Homo sapiens: one gene and its partners. The protein of the gene in region 3 purifies or fractionates together with the protein of the main gene of each other region. This does not show direct contact. Each region holds a gene or a part of one and is shown on either strand. Other genes may lie near its edges. The genes, in order: SIL1, CTSF, PON2 and LRIG2.

The links.
Region 1: the proteins of PON2 (region 3) and SIL1 purify together in Homo sapiens (affinity purification with mass spectrometry; 3 studies listed by BioGRID and IntAct, with this or other methods). This does not show direct contact.
Region 2: the proteins of PON2 (region 3) and CTSF purify together in Homo sapiens (affinity purification with mass spectrometry; 3 studies listed by BioGRID and IntAct, with this or other methods). This does not show direct contact.
Region 4: the proteins of PON2 (region 3) and LRIG2 purify together in Homo sapiens (affinity purification with mass spectrometry; 3 studies listed by BioGRID and IntAct, with this or other methods). This does not show direct contact.

The regions. Positions count from the first base shown.
Region 1 is NC_000005.10:139,020,333-139,027,371, forward strand, and holds part of SIL1 (nucleotide exchange factor SIL1 precursor), read right to left. Parts: intron 6,661-7,039; coding exon 6,469-6,660; intron 961-6,468; coding exon 839-960; intron 1-838.
Region 2 is NC_000011.10:66,562,964-66,565,645, forward strand, and holds the end of CTSF (cathepsin F precursor), read right to left. Parts: intron 2,044-2,682; coding exon 1,924-2,043; intron 1,844-1,923; coding exon 1,779-1,843; intron 1,686-1,778; coding exon 1,595-1,685; intron 1,184-1,594; coding exon 1,125-1,183; intron 1,045-1,124; coding exon 970-1,044; 3' UTR 501-969; downstream 1-500. Other genes in the region: ACTN3 (alpha-actinin-3), read left to right, coding at 72-230. UniProt on the Homo sapiens protein: Thiol protease which is believed to participate in intracellular degradation and turnover of proteins. Has also been implicated in tumor invasion and metastasis.
Region 3 is NC_000007.14:95,432,028-95,439,121, forward strand, and holds the start of PON2 (serum paraoxonase/arylesterase 2), read right to left. Parts: upstream 3,002-7,094; 5' UTR 2,925-3,001; coding exon 2,851-2,924; intron 1-2,850. UniProt on the Homo sapiens protein: Capable of hydrolyzing lactones and a number of aromatic carboxylic acid esters. Has antioxidant activity. Is not associated with high density lipoprotein.
Region 4 is NC_000001.11:113,090,164-113,097,202, reverse strand, and holds part of LRIG2 (leucine-rich repeats and immunoglobulin-like domains protein 2 isoform 1 precursor), read right to left. Parts: intron 5,886-7,039; coding exon 5,820-5,885; intron 5,175-5,819; exon of another isoform or gene 5,063-5,174; intron 3,998-5,062; coding exon 3,923-3,997; intron 3,774-3,922; coding exon 3,639-3,773; intron 2,865-3,638; coding exon 2,721-2,864; intron 2,592-2,720; coding exon 2,448-2,591; intron 1,330-2,447; coding exon 1,186-1,329; intron 982-1,185; coding exon 838-981; intron 1-837.

The DNA of each region.
Region 1 (7,039 bases), on a different chromosome or scaffold from region 3:
AAGCACAAAGGAAATCTTCTCGAAACAAAGCCTATAATGGTAAATATGTTCAGAATAGCTTTTCTCCTGTAACATCGTGACCTGCATCTAAGCATCTAATAGCCTCCACCCATGCCCTTGCAGCAAGAATCAGAATATTTGTTCCTGTTTTAAAGGCACAAATGGTCCTAAGAGCAGATTTTCAAAAATGGGAGGAACAATAGCTCCAATGGACCAATTGCAGCATGCAGATATCTTGACCTTTGCAGGTGGTGTAGAATGATGTGGTGCCTACATATCTTTTGGCATCTACTCTTTCGAGATGCTACCTCCCCACTCCTCTTGCCTTATCAGTCTTCCATCACAAGCCAGACTAACTGAAATTCTCAACAATTTCCAACCTAGAGAGGGCGATAATCTGACGGCATGTACATTGGTTCCAGACAACTAGGGCAAGACACATTCCTCCCTGAAAGCACCCCCTTGGTCAGGCTCATCATTTATTCGTCACTAGATGTAGCTTTACTGCCAAAAGACCTACTCTTGTTTATTCCCCTCCCTCTCTACTATTTATAGTTGGTCTAACTTTTTACAAGCTTTGAATAAAACAGAGAATGTGACCTAAGATGTGTTATTAAATGTCCATACACATAAGATGGGGGAACAGAGAGTCACAGATGGTGACAACATGGGTAAAAATTCCTATCTACTTGGAATAAGGGCAGAATCAAATTTTACTCTAGTTTCATTGAGATGACACTGAAATGTCAGTAGCAACAGGCACATTCAAGTGTACCCTTCTTCCAAGCAGATCAGGCCAAGCAATTCTGGCCATTGGGACGTCCATTATACTGCTCACCTGGAAAAGGCAGCGCCCAGCACAAACGCAGCATACTCCTTCACGAGGGGCTCTGTGCTGTTCAGCCCATTGATCACCACTTGAAGACCACCAAAGGAAAGCAGGTCCTGCGCATTGTCCATCTGCAACAGAGCCACTGCTTAGTACAGCATAGCCATCAGGGACAGGAAAGCTGTTCTTAGAGCCTTTCTTTTGGTGACTACCCAAAAACAAATTAAAAAGCCATGGAAAAATCAATAATGGCCTTTTTGACTAAGAAAAGGTTTGTAAAAACCAATTTTTTAATACTCTTAAATTTGAGAACTCCTAATTCATCTAACACGATTGATGAGCACCTGCGTGGGAATCAGCAGAAATGACACCTAGCTATTGCTTATGCCAAACATGTCCTGGAAAATTCTAATATCATAATGAGTCACAAAGCTTGCTCCTAATGTACAAGCTGTTAACACAAAGAATCTGGCGTCATCAGCACCACTAAATGGTGCCATGCTTCCTGCTGATGTCCAATCCCAATGGGGACAGTGGAGGCAGATTTTTAAAGCTGATTTTAAATTAGAAGCTAGGGACTATAAAAGGAGCCCTGTTATTGGGAGGGGGGTTGCCGTAAGAGTGCTGGGGAGGGGGGAATAACAATAGTACCTTTCTCTTGCATCTCAGGTTGACTGCATCTGAAGACATTCATGATAAAATATGCAAGAAAATCGCTCTCCCAAAGGTTTCTGTCTAAGCCTGTGCTACTGGCTAGTGGCTATGTATCAGACAGTGCAGAACATTTCTATCATTACATAAAGTTCTATTCAACAGCATTGGTCTAGGCTATCATTTAAGCTCCAAATCCCCAAGTCCGGATTCTCTCTTTTACTCTATAGCGGATCTCATTACCCACAGTTTATTAGTACCCTGGAACAAGACAACTCGCTTTCCTCAGAAAGGTCACTGGATCCTGTTTTCTACATGTACCCGCTACAGTCTCCCTCGAATATATCTTTGTTGCCACAAAGGCTGCATCTTGCCCATATGCTAATCCCACGCTATCAATCATGAGGAAAACTCAGGAAGCTGAAGCCCAACAACTGTGGCTGCTACCCATCTTTCTCCTCCAGATTCCACAGGGCCCCTTCCCAACTGCATCCTTGCCTCTCTGAACTAGGAGAGGACTCTGACAGAGAAATCAAGTGTGAGGATTGGTATTTGACTGTGCTAGTGTTTTGTGGTGGCCTAGCCTGTTGTTGCCACTTGAAAAATCATATTCATACACATTTGGATGGAATCTCCATGACAGCAGGGGTTTTGTCTGTCTGTCCACGCTTGTAGCTCCAGGGACTAGGATGGTGCTGAGCATATGGTTAGGTGTTCAATGAATAACTGTTGCATTAATGAGTATGAATTTGATCAGAAAAGAATGTTCCTGAAATAAAGCTCCAGTGTGAATAAAAAGGCAATCTGGGGTATCTGTGCCAACAAAATGAATGGGCCTCTGGTACCGCAGACATGAAGTAATGGCTAAACCAGGTTGTGAAGTAAGCATGAAGTCTGCTCTGCCATGTGGCCCCAGGCCATGGACATTTTTCTGCCCCAAACTGTTCTTATGAAGAGGAATAACTGGTTGAGCCACAGCCCAGCTAACTAGGGAGACTCAGGGTTGGGTGCTTTGCTGACATAAGCACCTTCCTTCCTTCCCTACATGCTCTAATTTTACAATGTAAGAATTCACTACCTATTCTTTGGTTGTCCTTCCTCTGGGTTTTCTGGATACAAAACTATGGCTCAGAATCCTGTCATACCACGCCTGGAATGGCCACTTATAAAGCTGGTATGAGTTCCTAGCAGAGCAGCTGCCACTCGGTCAGCTCCAAAGCAACACAGCCCAGAATCATGGACCTTCTGTTCTAGAGTCAGTTTATCTACTATTACTACAATGATAATTCAGCATGATAGAAATGCAGACATTTATATAAGCACTTCAGCCTTTTTGGGATGTTTTCTCATGGTTTACTTCACTAACAGTGAGGAAGAAACGATTCATTCTGCCCAGTGCACATCAAAAGCTGGGCCCCCCCCTGGTGACATACAGGAGAAACCATGACCATAGCCCAGGTCCACAGCTCCCCATCTCGGTCTGGGGCCAAAACTGTTCTCAGGCTGCCTTCGGGGTGGGGTGGGACAGGCAGAGAGGAAGAGGAGGAGGGAGTGCAGGAGGGAACTATGCCAACACCCTGGAGGAAAGGAAAGAAGCAGGGCACTGATAAGACAATGAGAGAATGGGAAACAGCGAAGGGGAAAAATGGTGGCACACAGCTGAGGAGACACGTGGGAGAAGGCAAATGTACTGCCCGAGGTAGATGGGGCGGACGGAGGCCGCTCCTCATAAATAACTCACCATCTGTTTCCACACACAAGGTTTTGCTTTTCACATATCCTGTTTAATAATTCAAATATGGCTGTGAGGAAGCCTGGCAGACCTGGTTTGGGTCCTTGGAGCCTACAGCTCCTCAAACCACCATTCAGTGAGTCTGGAATGAGAAAGGACTGGGGAAGTTCCTGGCTAGGAAAGTGCCATCTTCCTTAAAACTAGTACTACATCACCCCAAGCCCCCATCACAACTGGGACTCGGGCCGAGTTGTGTCTTACTTAATCCCCCAGTGAAATCACAGCTTAACATTGCTGCATGGCAGCCTGATGCACCAGCCCTTCCAGTCAAAACACCAATGATCCAGAACATTTCTCTGCCAACAGACAAATTTGGCTTCTGCCAGGGACTGATTTTGGGATGACCTCAGGATGGGTCTGGTGAGGTGGCCTGTGAAAGCAGAATGGGGATGTCACCTTAGGGAAGACACTGCCAAGTGACAAAGAGCCTACAAGGGAAAACAAAGAACTTTGTTGGGGCAATGCTAGCCCAAGCCTCCTGTGGACTCACACCCTTCCAGGTATGATAAGCTCTCCAGTCATTTTGGTGTTTCATGTGCAAGAGCCCATGGTGACCTGATACCTAAAGATTCATCCAAATATGTTAAGATGAGAAAAAATAGAAGCTGTCAACATCAAAGGAGGACTGAGTTGGCAAATAACCCCTTATATCCTTAATCCTTTAAATATCTCTAATGGAAAAGCTGTTGGAGTTCTTGGTTTTTACCCTGGAGAGTAAGACTGGAAAGGGGAAAGAGAACCGAGGTTCATTTTTTTTCTCTAAGAGGATCAGAGTCCTGCTATTTGAGGCCTGAGAAAGAGTTATGAGCAGAGAAAGAAGATGAAGAGGCTGCCCCATAATTCCTATGGATACAGTGCATACTCATCCTCTTTCACCACAGATGCTGGCAAAATCCTAAAGGAAGAAAGCATGTCTTTTAGCCCAGTTTACAGAGAACAAGGGCACTGTCGTGCATGGTGCATGGGAGGACATTGAGGATCTGTGTCTTGACAAGGATCTCAAACAAGCCTTTGATTATGATTACACAGCCTCCTGGGCCACTGTTGCCCCTAGTCTGGATTACTGCAATAGCCTCCTATCTGGTCTCTGCTTCTACCAAGCCCCCCACCTGCAGTCTAATTCTCAACACAGTAGCTGGAGGAATCCTTTTAAAAGTAAGTCAGATCACATCATTCTTCTGCTCAATATCCTTCAATAATATGCAAGTTCACTCTTTTCCATGGCCTACAGGCCCTCTATATTCTTCCTCCCATTATCTCTCTGAGCTGTATGTACTTCTTCTCTGCCTGCTCTCAGCTCCAGCTGATTCAAACACACTAGGCATGTTCCCACCACCGGGCTTCCACACTTGCTCTTCCTCCAGCCAGAGATGCCCCTTCTCAATGCTGCCAGTTCCTATCTCGCCATAGTTTCTATTTTTCTACAGTATTTATTACCTACAAACATATTACATATAATTACTTCTTTCTTATGCTTGTCTATCTGCTTCTGCTAGAAGGTTAAGCCCTAATTTTGTTCATAGACGTATCTCAAGTGCCTGGAACAGTGCCTGGGAGTTAGTAGACACTTGATTTATTTATTGAATAAATCAATGGCTTTTATTGGCTCCTTGTTAGCTCCACCTTTTGAGCTTAATTCAAAAGGTACCAGTTGCCTTTGAGAAACAGAGTGGCCAAAAGTTTTAGAGCACAGAGTTTAGGGTCAGACAGACCTTGCTGCAAATTCCAGCTCTACCACTCACTAGGCTGGATGATCTTGAGCAATTACATAATCTCTCTGTGCCTCATTTTCCTCGGTTATAAAATGGGATTAATAGTGGTACCTACTCATAGGGCAGCCACGGAAGTCAATGAATTAATGCATACAGAGCACTTGAAGCAGTGCCTGGTATATGACAACACTCAACAAATATTAGTTATTATAAGTCTGATCAGTTACTTCCCTGCTTCAAACTCTCTAGTGGTTCTTAGGATCAAGGCTAAAATCATAAAGAGCATGATATCTCCAACCTCACCTCTCCAGCCCCCGAACCTTCCCACTTCATCTATGCTCCCCTCCAGGCCGCTGTGCTCCAGTCACTCCAATCTTTTCCAGGCCCTCAATCTCCCCAAGCTTGTCCCTGCCCTAGAATCTCTGCACATGTTGTTTCCTCTAGCTGGAATGCTCTAATCTAAGGATTGGCAAACTTTTTCTAAAGGGCCTGGTAGTAAATATTTTTGACTTTGTGAGCCATATGGTCTCTGTCACAACTACTCAATTCTGCCATTGTGGCATAAAAACAGCAATAAACAATGCATGAACAAATAGGGGTTGCTGTGCCCCAATAAAATTTTATTTAGGAAAGGAGGTGTTGGGCCAGATTTGACCTATGGGCAGTAGTTTGCCATCCCCTGCTCTAGTCCCCCCTCTTCACCCAGCCAACCCCAATCATCCTATAACGCTTGGCCTAAATGTCACATCCTCTGAGAAGCCTCCCTTATTGTCCATGACTAGGCTCTAAGTTCTCCAGTTACATATTCTTACATCACCCTCTGGAGCCCTCATTACAATCTTAAATTATCTCATTATTTAATTAATTTGTTCAATTGTTCATTATTCAATTACTTCCTCTTCCAGGCTATAAGCTGCATAACTAGGACTATGTCTATTTTATCTCTGTGGTACCCTCAGAGGTACTAAAGAAGGTACCACTCCACATGAAAAAGAGGTTGGCTGGCCAGGCATGGTGGCTCAAGCCTGTAATCCCAGCACTTTGGGAGGACAAGGTGGGTGGATCACTTGAGGTTAGGAGTTCAAGACCAGCCTGGCCAACATAGTGAAACCCTATCTCTATCAAAAATACAAAAAATTAGCTGGGCGTGGTGGTGCACACCTGTAATCCCTGTTGCTCGGAAGGCTGAGGCAGGAGAATAGCTTGAACCCAGGAGGTGGAGGTTGCAGTGAGCCGAGATCGCGCCACTGCACTCCAGGCTGGGTGACCGAGTGAGACTCTGACTCAGACAAAAAAAGAAAAAGAAGTTGGCTCTGGCCTCTAAGACTGTATCTTACTACAAAAGATAACAAGACTAGATTAAAAATAGTCTGTGCTCTGGGAGAGAAGTAAAGATGTTGATGCTATTTTCTTAGGGCTTAGGGAAGGGGGATTTATTTTTGGAGCTGTTAAAAGTCTGACTTATGGACGAAGAAATACAGTACCTGATGGACATAATATTCAAGATCAAAGAGCGCAGCAATCTTCTCTTCCAAACTGGAGCTGGAACTATTGAACTTGTTGATCAGCCGTACCATGATCTGCATGTCAGTCTCAATGACAACATTCAGCTCATCAAAGTCTTTCTTCAGTTCCTCAATGGGGCGGAAGAGCCGCTTTACCTCAGCCTGCCTTGCCTAAGGAGAGCAGCAAAGAGGTGATTAAATTGGTTGGAGACATCTGCCCAAGATGTCTGTGGTCTACCATGGATGCCCATCCTCAAAAAACTGCTGCTCCAAGACTCACAGTCTTCTCTCATCTATGCTATCAAAAATACTAATACTTTCTAAGATGCCCAGAGAAGACAGCCCTCAAAGTCTGCCTATATAGGCCTCAGCTCTAAAAACACACTCAAGATGTTCCAAGATTCGCTTATTCAAGTCCGATTTCCAATATTCAGGAAGAATAGAAAGGCTTTTTGTCACAACCACTGAGTTAAGGGGAAGTAATGCAAGTTCATCTTCAACCTCAAACCACATATGAAACAGCTGAGACCTAAGGTAGAATAACCCACAC
Region 2 (2,682 bases), on a different chromosome or scaffold from region 3:
AGGCGGTGGAGGGGCTGGTGGGCTAGGGCAGGGCACGGGACCTGTGGGTCCTCAACGCCTCTTCTCCCCAGAACTACATCACCCCCGAGGAGCTGCGGCGCGAGCTCCCTGCCAAGCAGGCCGAGTACTGCATCCGCCGTATGGTGCCCTACAAGGGATCCGGGGCCCCGGCTGGAGCCCTGGACTACGTGGCCTTCTCCAGTGCCCTCTATGGGGAGAGCGACCTTTGACCCCAACCACTGAGGTTCTCTATGCAAGATGGAGAGAGGATGCACCCTGTGGCTGATCCCATCCGTCCCTCGGAGCAAGGGCCTAAGAGAAAAGCCAGCCAAGTGCTTCTGAATAAAGATCCCTCTCTGGGTCTCTCCCCATCTCCTTTTAGTTCCTGAAGCAGAAGCTGGCCCCTCAGGCTCCTGGGCAGGACCAGCTATCCCACCTTGACCCGCCAGGAGTCCCTGCCATCTCTCCTCACCCCCGGGGACTGAGCATTTATACCACACTCGGGACAAGGACACCTCTTTATTGCTGTTAGAAAAGGGTGGTTACAAGTTTCCTGGACATGGAGAGGGACACTATCCCTAAATCCAAGGGAACCAGAAAATTTATAGTATCAAACAGAGGAAAGCGGGGGCAGAACAGAGCTGGGCTTAAGATCAGAAAATTTTCTTCCTGCTCATTACCCAAGCCCAGAGTTCTTGCCCCAGCTTCAACTGCCAAGATACCACCCTTCACCCCGACATCCTCCTAAGCTACCACAATTCAACAAAGGTGCAGGTGCAGAACTTCAGGGTGGGAATGGGGTGCAGGGAAGCAGGGGCTGTGCCCCAGCCCAGTGCCCTCTGCTCACCCTGAGGTACCCAGTGCCTTTCCCTCTGCCAGCTGTACCTCCCGGGGAGGGGCCTGGACACATGTCAGGCTGGGGCAGCAGCCACTCTGATCAGCACCAGGTCCCGAGCTGGGGGCCCCTCTTCAGTCCACCACCGCCGAGCTGGCCATGGTGTTCACGCCACAGGCCCCGGACCCACGATGCAAGTAGTAGTAACCCTGGGGGAGAGGGGGAGCTGGTGAGGGCACCAGGGTAGGATGGCGGCTGGAGGGCCAGGGGCCAAGCCAGCAAGACTCACCTTCTCACCCCAGTCAGTGCCCCAGCTGTTCTTGATGGCCCAAAAGGGAACGTCAGAGCCTGGGGTGCAGTGCAGAGCGCAAGGATCAGGGTCCTTAATTCTCCAGGCAGAGCCTTAATCACTTTGCACCCTTCAAATACTTGCACTGGGCCTACTGTGTGACAGGGACTAGGAAAAGAGCAGAAAGCGAGGGGCCCACCTACCAGCCTCAGGGAGAAGCCCTGGGGCAGGGAGGAAGCACGCACCCACCCGCCTATTGCAGGTTATTAGGCCATCAATATTTACCCTCCCACAGCTCAGCTTCCCTGCCATAGAGAGGACAGATGATGCCCAGCTGGTCATGGCCCAGGCAGTGGGTAAGGACAGGGTTCCTAGGCATTCCCCCTATTTCCCCTCTAGAGGACCTGAGATGCTGTGATCCCACCCCTGCCTGTGGCCTGGCTGGATGCAGGACAGGCAGCGGAACTCACGGTTGCCGTAGCCCACAAGCAACACCGCATGGTCAATGAGCCAAGGGCTGCAGAGGGGCCGGAGAGGGCGGGAGATCCCGTGGCGGTAAAACTGGAGGTGGAGAAGGAGTAGGGGATCGACTCCAAGAAGAGGTCGGGGAGGTCAACAAGAGATGGGGCAGGGGCAGTGGGGCTAGGGCCTCACCTGCATGCCAAAGGCATTGATGGCCACGGAGATTGGGCCTCTCTTGGCCAGCCAGGCTGCCAGCTCTGAGATGGGAAGGGGTGGCATCAGTAGGCACCCAGGCCCCGGCCCCACCTGACCTCACCTCACCCTGCCCCTCACTCACTCTGCTCGTTCTGGCTCAGCTCCACGGAGTCATTGATGTAGACCTTGGCCTTCTCTGCTGAGAAGTTGCAGGACTGCATGTGACCCTGGTAGCTGTAGTCATCCTCTGTCTCCAGCCCTCCTGGGGAACGGTGGGGGTGAGTAGAGAAGGGCAGGCTCCCATTTGCCATTCACAGCCAGAAATGAACTAAGCCCTCTACGCGAGGTTTCACATTCCTCGTCCACCCCAGGCCACAGGCCATCCCCTCTGAAGAATGTCTTCATTCTAGAAATGACACATCTGAGGCTGGGAGAGATGGGGAGGAGGGACCAGTAGCCAGCAAGAAAAGTGGCAGAGACAGAACTCAACTCCAACTTCTGACTCCTCACCAAGAGCTCATCCCAGCAGTCTTTCACCCAGGCTGGAGTACAGTGGCACAAACATGCCTCACTACAGCCTCAACCTCCTGGGCTCAAGCGATCCTCCTGCCTCAGCCCCCCAAGTAGCTGAGACTACAGATGCAAGCCACCATGCCTGGCTAATGTCTTTAATTTTTTGTAGAGATGGGGTCTTGCTATGTTGCCCAACCTGGTCCTGAACTTCTGGCCTTAAGTGATCTTCCCAAGTTGGCCTCCCAAAGTGTTGGAATTACAGGCATGAGCCACCACGCCTGGCTGGGTCAGCATTAAGACCTGGACCCAGTTCTGTGTAACTCTCATGCTCATGTCTCCCCCCCATTATGAAGTAACTTCTTGTACAGGGAGAAGTGGCTCCGGTTGC
Region 3 (7,094 bases):
GGGGCTCCACATATCCAATAAAGTTACCATTTTATAAAGTCACTGCCCATTAAAGTGCATCACAGTCACGTAAAGAAAAGGTGCATCAAATTGTAAAGTAGGCCGAGGGTGGTGGCTCATGTGTATAATCCTACCACTTTGGGAGGCTGAGGCAGGAGCATCACTTGAGGCTGGGAGTTTGAGATTAGCCTGGGCAACAAAGTGAGACCCTGTCTCTGCAAGAAATAAAAATACTAGCTGGGCATGGTAGCATGCATCTGTAGTCCCAGCTACTCAGGAGGCTGAGGAGGGAGGACTGCTTGTGCCTAGGTGTTTGAGATTGCAGTGAGCTTTGATGTACCACTGTACTCTGGCTTGGGCGGCAGAGCAAGACCTTGTGTCAAAATAAAAAACAAAGAAAAACAAAAAACAAACAAACAAAAACCTGTAAATAAACTATCAGGCATTCTGTCAATAAGTTTTATTTACTTTTTCTTTTTTTTTTAGATTTGCAGCTATAACTTTAAAACCTTAAGATTAGTGAGAAGGGGGAATATTTGACTGTTGAGAAAACTTCCAACTTGCAGAAAAACTGGTGGCTTACACATTAGTGACAACATAATAAGCTTGTGAATTTTGGTGGTCTTGCCTTTGAAATGGAGAGCAGGACAGATCATATACAAAGTCATCCAACTCATGAATGTTCTGTAGAGCACAATGGGCATTACCTAACATGAAAATTAAGGTCAACATGTCCATTTCCTACCCATAAGCGTTCTTTCCTCAAATCTCACTCCCATCTCAGCCACCACACGCTTCCTCTTTGCACTGCTTTATCAGTAGATGAAACTACAACCATGGGACAGTGGAGCTGTGGCACAAACTCTGGTAGCACCTTTGACTTCTCCCTCATCCCTGGGGTTCCAGAGTTTGGGTCCCTGTTATCCTCTCTGACCTACTGCAATACCTTAACCAGTTACCCCATGTCTGCTCTCTATTCTAGTAGTTCTCGACCTTGACTGCTCATTAGAATTATCAGGAATGTTTTTAAAAATAAAAAATGCCACTGCTACTGTCAGCCACTGTTCTTACATTATGCACTTCCTTATTTATCTATTTACCTGGGAACCCTGAAGCCAGCTTGCCAAACAATACATTATTCCATATCACATTTTAATTATAACGAAAAATCTCTGGTAGGTAGACACCATAGTTTATAAATTACCAACTCAAATTTTGTTTTTTATTTATTTATTTATTTATTTATTCATTTTGTAGAGGTGGGATCTTGCTATGTTGCCCAGGCCTGTCACTAACTCCTGGGCTCAAGCAATCTTCTGGCTTAGGCCTCCAACAGTGCTGGGATTACAGGTGTGAGCTGTAGATTCTGATCCAGAACAGCTGAATCAGAATCTTTGGTGGTGCCACTCAGACACCAGCCCTCCAGGAGATTCTAATGTACAGAGAACCATTGCTCTCCTCCAATCCCCCCTTCCAGGCTTATCTCTATAAAACACAACTAGTTATATTAAGTTCTTGTTGAAAAGCAAAACCCACCAATATTTCCCTTTTGAAGCACTATTGGGCCTATGAAAGTGGGGCCCCATTTTTCAACTTATATTTAATGGCCTCAAAACCTATCCTTCCCACCACCCTACTATTCTCATCTCCTGACTTTATGCTCCCTTCAAATTGGCCCATTTGCTAGTCTTCCAACTTCCCACCTTAGCCCCTTTGCTCCTGCTGCACTATACATTTGGCATGGGCCCCTTCATGCTCATATGTGTTGCACCCACCCTTCAAGGTCAGGTCGAATGTCTCTTCCTCCCTCTAGAACTCCACCCTCAGGGGATGGAATCTTTCCTCTTTAAGCCTATGCGGTTCATTTGTGTCTGTCCTTAGAACATCCTAATTTATACATTTACTGTATTTTAATTCTCTCTTCCCCTGTATCAAACTCCATAAGGGTCGTACTCTACTATAGAAGCCTAAGAGAGAACATTACACATAGCAGGTGCTCAGTCTTTCTGGAACTCTTTTGCATGAGGCCTATAAAATTTTGGTTGAGGCAGGGCAGAACAGCTCACACCTGTAATCCCAGCACTGTGGGGAGGCCTAGGCTGGAGGATTGCTTGAGTGCAAGAGTTAGGGAACAGCCTGGGCAATACAGCAAGACCCCATCTCTACAAAAAATAAAATAAACAAAAAACAAACGTTGAGTTGGTAATTTATAAACGATGATGTCTACCTACCAGAGATTTTCATTAAAACTAAAATGCGAGATGGAATAGTGTCTGCGCTGTCTGGCATTCTGGCTTCAGGCTTCCCTGGTGAATAAATAGGAAGTAAGAACAGTAGCTGAATATTTCAAGTGTCTTTGATCTACAGCTGAAGAGTTTCTCAAACTATGCAGAAATGGGTGGAGAACAACTTTATTAAAGACGGGTCTGGTTTGGGCAACAAGGAGAAACAGCACCAATGACCTGAAATAAATCTTCATAGTTAAGGTTTCAATGCATGAGTAGTCATTTTGTTTTCAATTTAAACCACTAGTTTGGCCCTTGGGTAATTGCAAAGCATTCTCTTGTCAGCCTAAGCAGAAGAGAACTTTGTTAGCAGCAAGGGCTTATAAACTTTCAAGAAAGTGTCGCGATTCACTCCAAACTTTGCTAGTTTTTTCACTAGAAGCGGAGAGTCGGGGTGATGGGGGTTCAACTAGCTGGGGGAGGGACAGCATTCAAAAATTCTCCACCCCCGGCCGCAGGGCCAGGTCCCGCAGGAATCCCTCCCCCAGCCTGCGCCCTCCCCGCACCACGCGGCCACCCCGAGCCTGGGGACCGCCGAGGAGGGGCGCGCGGGAGTCCCACCTACCTGAGTGCCAGAAGCCTCTCGCCCAGGAGCGCCAGCGCGATCCCCAGCAAGCCCACAGCCACCAGCCGCCCCATGGCGCGGGAGCCGGGCGCGCTGCCTCGCTCCGGCCTGGCCAGCAGCTCCGTGGGCGGTGCCATCTTCCCGGCTCGATGGTGCCGGCCGCGCTCCGCCCCGTCCTCCGCCTAGGCCGAGTCCCTGCGTCGGGGCCGCGGAGGCTCCGCCCTGGGCCTGGCCCTGGTCTTTGTCCTCACAAACCTATTTCCCCAGATACCTTCGGGACGGCCCGGACACGCCTTACATTAGGCTCATGATGTGAAACTTTGAATTCCTTCACTTCCTTTTTCAAACAACCCACCCGAAACCCTCTAGCAGCCCGCATACCTTTCTCGTTTCCCTAGTCTTCAAACACATTTCTCACTCGCTATTCCAGTGAGAAACTTACATAGAAAGCAGCTTTTGGGGATGGGGGTCGGTGGCCAAGGGAGGGAAAGTAACGGGATGCGTCGTGTAAATATTTCACGTTGGAATCACTACTTTTTATAACAGGACGTAGTTGCGAATAAATAAACATCCTGTGCCTCGTAATACTTTTTTTTTTTTTTTTTAACAGGGTCTCGCTGTGTTGCCTAGGCTGGAGTACATTGGCACAATCATAGCTCACTGCAGTCTGGACCTCCCGGACTCAAGGGACCCTCCAGCCTCAGCCTCCTGAGTAGCTGGGACCGCAGGCACGTACCGTTACACCTAGCTAAGTGTGTGTAAGTTGTGTGTGTGTCTGTGTGTGTGTGTGTGGAGACCGAGTCTTGCTGTGTTGCCCAGGTTGGTCTCAAACTCCTGGACTCAAGCCATCCTCCTGCCTCAGCCTCCCAAAGTGCTAGAATTACAGGAATGAGCCACCATGCCCAGCCTCTATTAATACTTCCAGACTACAGACTTAAGGACTTAGACACGTCTTTTTCATCCAAACTCAAAGGGAAGAAGTGTAGTTTTTTTCTTTTCCGTTTTTACTCTAACAACCGTAACATGAAGGAATAATTTAAAATACAATTTTAAAAGTAAAATGAAATTTACCCATCAAGATTGATACCATTACAATAAATGAGTACATCTGAAATAAGCTTCTAATGGTTTTCGGTATTTAATTGCCACCCTACAATATGTAGGCAGAAATGGTCACACTTGACAATTTTCAACAAATATCAGTTTTATAAAGAACCAGTAAATAAAAGTGGATGCCAATTTCCCACCTGCCTCTCACCAAAAAAAAAAAAAAAAAAAAAAAGCACAAACACCTCTCTCCCTGTGTGTGTGTGTATCTCTGCTTCAGTCCTAAGGATATTGGATTATACTGGATGGTAGAAAGAGAAGTAAAAAGTTGTCCTTTGAAAGCCCATGAGGCATTACCTTTTTTGTGTCGTGGACCCTTCTGGCAGTGGTGAGCCTGTGGATAACTTCTTAGAATAATGTTTATAAATGCTTACAATAAAATGCATAAATTTTCTCTGTGCGGTTCATGAAAAAAAGAAAGAAGAAAAAAAAATTTTAAATAAATGAATAAAATGTATAGATTGCAAAGAAAATCAATTACATTGTAAGGAAAAAAAATAGCTGAGAGCAGTCTGAGCTTTGTGAGGTATGCAAAATTTATCAGGCCCAGAGCGACATGAGTATGGGACTTCAGTCACGCCCCAATACCCATGCCTGGGGACAGTTGTTTAAAGACATTTTGTTCCCGAGTAGCTGTCCCACCCATTATCTTCATATTCCTGGAATTTATGATACAAAGAACAAAGTATAACCAATCCACAGCTTATGTTATTTTAACGCAAGGAATTTAGGAACTGCCTCTTCCTTCCCCTTAAAAATCTATGTGTAACTGCTGCTAATCAGAGTGTATATTTAGGGAAACTTGAATCTATACTCCTGGGTTGCAGTACTCAAACTTGGCCCAAATAAACTCTCTACTTACATTAATTTTGCCTTAGCTTTAAAATTAAAGGTCAACAATTGAAATGTAATTGTTAAAATATCTAAAACATAATTTTTTGCTATAGTAATGTGGTAATGTAATGTGTGCAACATTATTTAACATATTAAATAACAAGATCTAGCAACATTCTTTTAAATAAAGAGGAGTGCAAATGTTCTTTCATGATACTGAAAACAACTATAATGAAATAATGAAAATAACTGTTATTTCCATTAGTAACAGTCACAAGTACTGCAAATGCTTCTGAGGTTTGTCTGCTAGTTTTGTAATTGAAGAAAATGCTAAATTCCATTTGAAATCAAGATTTTTTTTTTCTTATCCAAGGTCATTAATTCCTCTGAACTATCAATGGACCACTGGGTTAAGAACTCTGACATAGGCTAAGGCTATGACTGTTTAGAGAAGGGTGGAATCTCCTTTCTAGGACTATTTTTGGTGTCAATTATTGAGGAAGAGAAGAGCCTCAGATACAAAATCAGAATTTAGGCCTGGCAAGGTAGCTCTTGCCTATAATCTCAGCACTTTGAAAGGCCCAGGTGGGAGGATCACTTGAAGCGGGGAGTTCAAGACCATTGTGGGCAACATAGGGAGAACCCATCTCTACAAAAAAAAAATTAAAATTAACAAAAAAAAAAAATTAAAGAATCAGAATTTAGAAGAAAGACCTAAAGCAGAGGGCCTTGGACTATTGTCTGGGCTTCTCTCTTAATCTCTTAGGCCCCAAGGGAAGTACATACAACTATGCCTCATGGATTCTGGGTCAGGAGCCAGGCTACCGTGTCTTTCCACAAGTTCCGCAAAATGAGGAAACCACATAGATGGCAAATAAGAATATCCAAGTATATGCTATTCTCTGTCTATTTCCCTTTTGCTATTCCCAATTTTTTAAAAAGAAAAAAGTCATGTTCTTAATAGTCATGTTCTTCAACCTGGTTCCAGGTGACATTAAAGGGTTGGAGGTCTACATCTTTTAGGCTAGTCTCAGGATAGCAAAAACAACAACAACAACCAAAACCAGCTTTTGTGCTGACTTTCCTTTCTTCCCTGGCCCATGGTAGGCGTCACTAATTGATTTTGGCAAAGTGTCTCATCACACCCAGACTTGTCCTCACAATTTTTTAAAACAACAACGAAAGGGAAATAAGAATCCCTGAGCTAGGGAACAGATTTCAGTTCAGGATGAAACCTGTTTGCCATCTTGGTGCTGGGTGGTCAGGAGGAACAACACCTTGGGATTTAGCATGGAAGCATTTGTGATAATGAGCCAGGACTTTCAAGTCCACCAAAACCTACCTAAGCTCACCCTCAGAGAATCAAGAGAAATGGAAACCTTATTTTAACTTTATTAACATGACCAGTGAGTTCCCCCAATAATCTGTGTGAGGAATCTTCTACCCCCATATTCTTTCTCTTTCTGAATGTTGCGGTTGAAGCAACTTTTGCAGAAGTAGTATCCATCTTTACCCCCAGCCCCACCACCATGCTAGGGCTGGAATTGTCATTCCTCACATGGGGATGGAGATGAGACGTATTTTCTAATTTGGAAATCAGAAACCATTGTAAGAATGTTATAGTGGTTGTTACATTGTATAGTATAGTTTAGCTGTCTTTTGAGATAACTAGGATGTATAGGCCACACCAAGAACATAACCCCTGGTTTACGTTTGTTTCCTGGGGAAAGTGGTTTCTGACTACCAAATAACCAAGTTACTCAATACAAAACAAACTTGTTCTGGAACTTGCTTGTGTGCTGGCAACTCCTTATACTTGGTATGAAACAGTATTTCTCAAATAATGACTTCTGACTTATTTAGTGGTTATTAAGTGGTTTTTTAAGCAAAATTTCAGAAATAATAATACCTTTTATCAGTGCTTCTCAAACTATGTGCAGTGAAGGACAGGTTTTTCTTGGCCTTTGTAAAATGCAATGAAAATGACTTACTGGAAGAGGAAGTAAAAAAACCAGACATACAAAATACAAGCCCAAATCTTTTATTATTTGGTTCAACAGACATAAAATTACTTTGTCAAATTTCTGTAACAGTTTCTAAATGCTTACTTTCAATTTTTTATACTTAACTAGCCATGGACCAGAAACAAAGAGTTCACAGACTGAAATGGTCCCTGGAGCACACTGCCTTTCATAATTGTACTTTTAACTCTTTAAAGTTCTTTGCAGTGTATTCTTAATTGTAACGCTCACAGTAATTTGTGAAATAGGTGACTCGTGATTATTGTAATTTTATATAATATG
Region 4 (7,039 bases), on a different chromosome or scaffold from region 3:
AAAATTAGATATATTTATATATAAATATATAAAGTTCACAAAAACACATTCTTATATTCTGTAAATTGAATAACTTACAGAACCACAGAATTTTAGCGTGGAAACTGCCTTTAGCAACCATCTAATCCTATATCCTTCCTTCACCGTATAAAGGAGAAAAAAAAATGATGGCCAGGAAAAGCTAAGTGATTTTGTTCTTCTGTTGGTATGATAAAATGGACATGAGCTTTAGCATCAAACAGACCTGGGATCTGATTCTGGCCCAACATTTACAAGCTATGTGACTTAGAGAAAATTATTTAAATTTCTCTGAACCTCAGCCTCCTAATATGGAAAACAGCAGTATCATCCTAGTATTTGAAAGTACCTGGCACATATCAGATAATAAGTATTAGTTTCTTCTGTCCAAAGTCATGTAGCAAACCAGTAACAGTGAACTGGTCTCCTACCACGGCAGTTCCCACTACACAACCTGCATCCTTTCGAATGAGAACTAGTAGCTCTGGTGTATTGTCAAAGTCAAAGGAACAAGAAAATGACTGCTCTCCTGACACTAGCAACTGTGTTTTATTCCACAGCAACTAACACAATAAGACATGCTTTGATGCTTATGGGATTAACTCAGAATTAAACTACAAACTGAATTGCCTACGACAGGCTTGGGATTTTTATGGGGATGGAGACAAATAAGACTGCCTTGCTCTGAGGCATAGGACAGAAGAACCACAAAATGTTAGCATACAGAATTTGCAGACTGATTAGTTGTTTTAATTAATTTGCTTTATTGTACTAAAAAAATCAGTAACAACAACCAAAAAGGAGAATGGATATACTTACAATGTCTGAAGATTGGAAAGAAATCTAAATACACCATCAGCAATATGAGTGACTCTGTTGTCTCCTAAATTCAATCTCTCCAATAAGCTCAGACCCACAAAGGCAGATTCATCCAGGCGGGTCAGCTGGTTATAGGACAAATCACTGAAAACAAGAAATGTGGAAGGTAAGGAATTCATTGTATTTGGTTCAACTTACAATTCTTATTATATCTACATGGTAAATTTAGAGCTTTCTACAAATTTCTAGTAAAGAGGGATGTTACATCTCATTACTGCCCATGGGAATGATTTATTCCAATCTGCTCTAGTCTTAACTGCCTCCAGTGAAATGCTATCCAACACTTACAGTTCGGATAGTCTTTGGCAGAACTCCCATGCATCAGGGCTGATTCTTTCAATAGCATTCTGGCTCACATAGAGCTGCTGTAACATTCGCAAGCCATACAACCACCCCTTGTTTACTCGTGTAAGGTTGTTGTGTTCCAGTTCTCTGCAGAATTAGAGAAAGAGAAGAAAATACGTTCCAAAACAAGGCAGTTCAATAACTAGCTTTAAATCTTAAGTTTTTCCCAGAGAAGCATATACCTTTGTTCAACCCAACTGAGCTGACCAATTCTATTCAATAAAAATGAATATCTTATTTAAGATTTAGTGCTTGGCCGGGCACAGTGGCTCATGCCTGTAATCCCAGCACTTTGGGAGGCCGAGGTGGGCGGATCACAAGGTCAAAAGATCAAGACCACCCTGACCAACATGGTAAAACCCCATCTCTACTAAAAATACAAAAATTAACTGGGCACGGTGGCGCGCGCCTGTAGTCCCAGCTACTCGGGAGGCTGAGGCAGGAGAATCGCTTGAACCCATGAGGCAGAGGTTGCAGTGAGCCGAGACTGTGCCACTGCACTCCAGCCTGGCAACAGAGCAAGACTCTATCTCAACAACGACAACAAAAAAAGAGATTTAGTGCTAGAAGGTAGTAAGACTGTCTAAAATAGGAGCTCTACAAAACCAACAGGCCAAGTGGTATAGTATACCTGTTTGGATAAATTCTGGTAATTTTCATTAGCCAAAACATTAAGAATATAAACTTTTTGGCCGGGCACGGTGGCTCATGCCTGTAATCACAGCACTTTGGGAGGCCAAGGTGGGTGGATCATGAGGTCAGGAGTTCGAGATCAGCCTGACCAACATGGTGAAACCCCATCTCTACTAAAAATACAAAAATCAGCCGGGCCTGGTGGCACACGCCTGTAATCCCAGCTACTCAGAAGGCTGAGACAGGAGAGTCACTTGAACCTGGAGGCAGAGGTTGCAGGAGCTGAGATCACGCCATTGCACTCCAGCCTGGGCAACAGAGTGAGACTCCATCTCAAAAAAAATATATATATATATATAAACTTTTTAGATGAGAAGTTTGTAAGAATTATTTCAAAATTGATCAGTTAGCTAACAAAACTTTAAAGGTTTTATGTACGCTTACTTCACATCAGTGACCAGGGAATGAATGAATGTATCTCTATAATCAGAACAACTACCCTAGCCATTCGACACTGAAAAGTCCCAAACAGACTACTTTCCTAATAATCACCTCTAGTCCCGAGTACTTACAGTTCTTCCATGTTATTCAAGCCAAAAAATGCTCCATCCTTAAGTTTGCTAATTCCATTCCGCTGCATTTTCAAAGATCTTAAGGAGTCAAGCCCTTGGAATGTAAGACCTTCCACAATTTTAATTCTGTTTCTTTTAAGTTCCCTTTAACAAAAATAGTTTTACAGTCAGGAAATTGGTTTGCTAAAATGTTCTAACAGTAATTAAATTAAAAAGAAAAAGACCCTGTAAGAAAAAACTATCTTCTTATAATCCGTCTATTTCGTTACTCACAAGAATTGGAGGTGAGGCAGCTTGAAGATCTTAGGTGGAATCATGCTCATTCGGTTACGGTTTAACTTTACCACTAATAAGGAACTTGATAAATTATCGAAGCAACCAGCCTCCAAGGTGGTTATTCTGTTATTACTTAAATTCCTAAAATAAACAAGATAATAGCAAAAGAAAAAATTTAGTAAAATAAAAATTCTACCACTAGAAAGCTGCCAAAAATCTATGTCTAAGCCCCCAGCTCTATCACTTAATGCCCATCCACAACTTTATAAATCATTTAACTGCTCTGTTTCTTCATCTACAAAATTAAGAAGCTACCTACTTCATTTAGGTTGTTACAAAACAGCATGTGTGAATATGCTTTGTAAACTGGAAAACACTGGCACACATGCTAATTATCATTATATACAGTAAGCCATTGTTTAACAAATCTCTATTTACCTTTTAGAAAGCTTGGTTCAAAAAAAAACAAACAAAATTGAATCTCAAAATTACCCTTGATATCTACCAATATTTTCTGACAATAGTGCGATCTTTCTTTAGGGGGCTTGTGGGGTGAGTGGCAAAGCCAACCACCCAACACACCAACTCTAGGTTTGTCTCACATATGCATATAAAAAGCACAATAAATAACCAAATATTTTTGGATAGGTACTGATGAATAATAAACATGTGCTTTATTTTATTTTATTTTTATTTATTTATTATTATTATACTTTAAGTTTTAGGGTACATGTGCACAATGTGCAGGTTAGTTACATATGTATACATGTGCCATGCTGGTGCGCTGCACCCACTAACTCGTCATCTAGCATTAGGTATATCTCCCAGTGCTATCCCTGCCCCCTCCCCCCACCCCACAACAGTCCCCATAAACATGTGCTTTAAAGTAAATCTAATTTAATCTGTGTTACTTACAGGTATTTAAGCTGCATGCGAGGAAATGAAGATGTCTTGATTTCTGATATTATATTTGAGCTGAGGTCTAAACTCTCCAGAGCAGGGTAAAACTGGAGTGCCTGTGCATTTATTTCTGGGATTATATTATGGACTCTGTAAAACAAAGATTATAATGAAGCTGCTGCCACTGATCCACCCCAGGCCACAAAAATGTTAATTAGAATCAACAATATATGTGCTTTAAAAAAAAAATGTATACTTTTCATAATTTAAGTAAAAAACCTGAAAACTTACTAACTTACAATGAAAGTAGAGTAATATTAGATGTAGGTTCTCCAAAATACGGGATTTCTGTTAGTTCATTGTAATTCATTTTCCTAGGCAAGAGGAAAAACAGATTTAAATGTTTAGTGAGGGAAATATTACCTCTTGGATTCTACCTTCTGGCTAACACATATTCTTTAGAATAGGTGCCAAATTTGAAAAAGAATATGACTCAGAATGAGTTAGACGAAAATAAAAATGTATTTATTGAGAAATTAGAGGTTTTAATGAGAAATGTATTTTCTTTCTTTTTTTTTTCTTTTTTTTTTGAAACAGAGTTTCATTCTTTTTGCCCAGGCTGGAGTGCAATGGTGCAATCTTGGCTCACTGCAACCTCTGCCTCCTGGGTTCAAGTGATTCTCCTACCTCAGTCTCCTGAGTATCTGGGATTACAGGCATGCACCACCACGCCCGGCTAATTTTGTATTTTTAGTAGAGACAGGTTTCACCATGTTGGCCAAGCTGATCTCAAACTCCTGACCTCAGGTGATCTGCCCACCTTGGCCTCCCAAAGTACTGGGATTACCGGCGTAAGCCACCATGCCTGGCCAAGAAATGTATTTTCATAGTGTTGATCTACTATTGATATTAATATCAGAAAGGTTATGAAGTATTTTGCACATTAAATATTGTTAGTTCAAGCAAAGTTCTTTGAATAAGTTGGGTTTATGGCAGCTAATTTGAGTCCTTAAAGAAGGCATAATCAGTCCATCCAGATCTCTCTTTCTCTAAATATATATAAACACACAACACACAAATGTATATATATTTTTTCTAAAGCTATACAAATGTTAGAGAGTGTTACTTGAGACCACAGATGAAATTTATCAGCCCACCCAGAGATGGAACCTATGACTAATTTTACAGATAACATAACATGTTGCATCTGATCCCAGCAGCCCTTTAAACAGTTTGTCTCAAATGTTTTAGTAGCAAATCTAATACAATCACATTTCATTAACCTGGTTTTTAGTCACTGAACAACCTCAACAATCTAGAACACAGAAAAGAAACCAGAAGTAAAGACCTTCAGGAAACCAACCAAAGTTACAAAGTCCATGCAATAAAGCTCATGCACTTCCCACTGAAGCATTTTCAGGCCTTTCCTCAGTGCCTACTCTTTCAGCTAACAAACTTGTCAACTGTGTACTCATCCACAACGTATTAGAAGCAGTGAATCTGGGGCCAGGAGGAGAGAATGCAGAGACAATGAGCATGAAGAAGTTATCCCTGTTAGCAAAGAATTAAAAAGGAAAGTAAATCTCAGGGTTCTGATGGTGTTAATTGTAGAGGCAAATAGGCCTATATACCTTAACGGTTGTGCCTCTAGGAATGTAACAATGCAAAAACTAATATTAATAATATCTTAGAAAACTCCCTCCAAAATTACATAATACATCTCAGTATTAAAGGAAAAACTTTAGTTAAGAGAAAAACTTAATTCTATCAATCATTACATTCTCATATGATATCAAGAATACTCTATTTCATATAAATCTACTTTAGACATGATGCTCCCAATCTTAGATAACATGTCAAGACATTTAAAAAGGTTATACAACAGAGTTTCACTGGCTGAAAACTTGGCCAAAATCAAAACACATTTACTCTGAAGAGGCGTAAATCTTACTTTTAGCCCCAGGAAGGTAGAATATTTCCCCCACAGCCTGCAACTTGAAATCACCAACCCAATGCCAAGACAGTCTGATAATAACAAAGCCAAAGAAAACATTTTAGGTTTTCAAATAATTTCTTTTAACTAATTTTTTCCTTCAATTTTTTTATGGCATCTCTGGATTAAACATCCCACAAATCACAATTTATTAAGTTCCCTCAGGAATTTAACATAACTTTAAATAAATAAAAATAACTTACACTTCCTGTAATGTTTGTGATTCCAAGCTGATGTTCCAGTTAGACAACCGATTATGACTGAAATCCCTGAAAGAGGACAAAATATCATTCTTAGTTTAGTCCTGGAAAGTAGACCTAAAGAAAAAAAAAGAAACTAAATAGAAATACAAAAAGTCCTCTTGGCCAGGTACAGTGGCTCATGCCTGTAATCCTGGCACTTGGGGAGGCTGAGGCAGGCAGATCACCTGAGGTCAGAAGTTCAAGACTCACCTGGCAAACACCATCTCTACTAAAAATACAAATATTTGCCAGGTGTGGCAGATCACCTGAGGTCAGGAGTTCAAGAATCACCTGGTGAAACCCCATCTCTACTAAAAATACAAATATCATCCAGGTGTGGTGGCACACGCCTGTAATCCCAGCTACTCAGGAGGCTGAGGCAGGAGAATTACTTGAACCCGGGAGGCAGAGGTTGCAGTGAGCCAAGTTCACGTCACTGTACTCCAGCGTAGGTGACAGAGCAAGATTCTGTCTCAAAAAAAAAAAAAATTTTTTTGTTTTCTTTTTGAGACGGAGTCTCGCTCTGTCGCCCAGGCTGGAGTACAGTGGCGCAATCTCGGCTCACTGCAAGCTCCGCCTCCCGGGTTCACGCCATTCTCCTGCCTCAGCCTCCCTAGTAGCTGGGACTACAGGCGCCCGCCACCACGCCCGGCTAATTTTTTTGTATTTTTAGTAGAGACGGGGTTTCACCATGTTAGCCAGGATGGTCTCGATCTCCTGACCTCGTGATCTGCCCATCTCAGCCTCTCAAAATGCTGGGTATACAGGCGTGAGACACCACACCCAGCCAAAAAAATTTTTTTAATAAAAAAAAAAAGTCCTCTTAAATGTCAATTTGAGTAGTATAGACAAGAATGTTTATAAAGGATGAATAAAAATGTATCTGAATTTCAAAATAGCTATTTTACTTTACGTGTGTGTATTTATATATGTGTGTGTAGCTTCTGAGTTTGGGAATATATTCACATGGTCCAATTATCAAAAAGTGTAAAAAGTCTCCCACTTTTGTTTCCAGCCACCCAATTCCCCTTCCCAGTAACAACAAATGAAAATATGCCATTTATTGTGCAGACTTCTGGATATTTTATGCATGTACAGCAAATTTTTACAGAAATGACACAACAATTTACACATTTTGCCCCTTGCTTTTTTCACTCAATAATACATCTTAGGTCATTCCA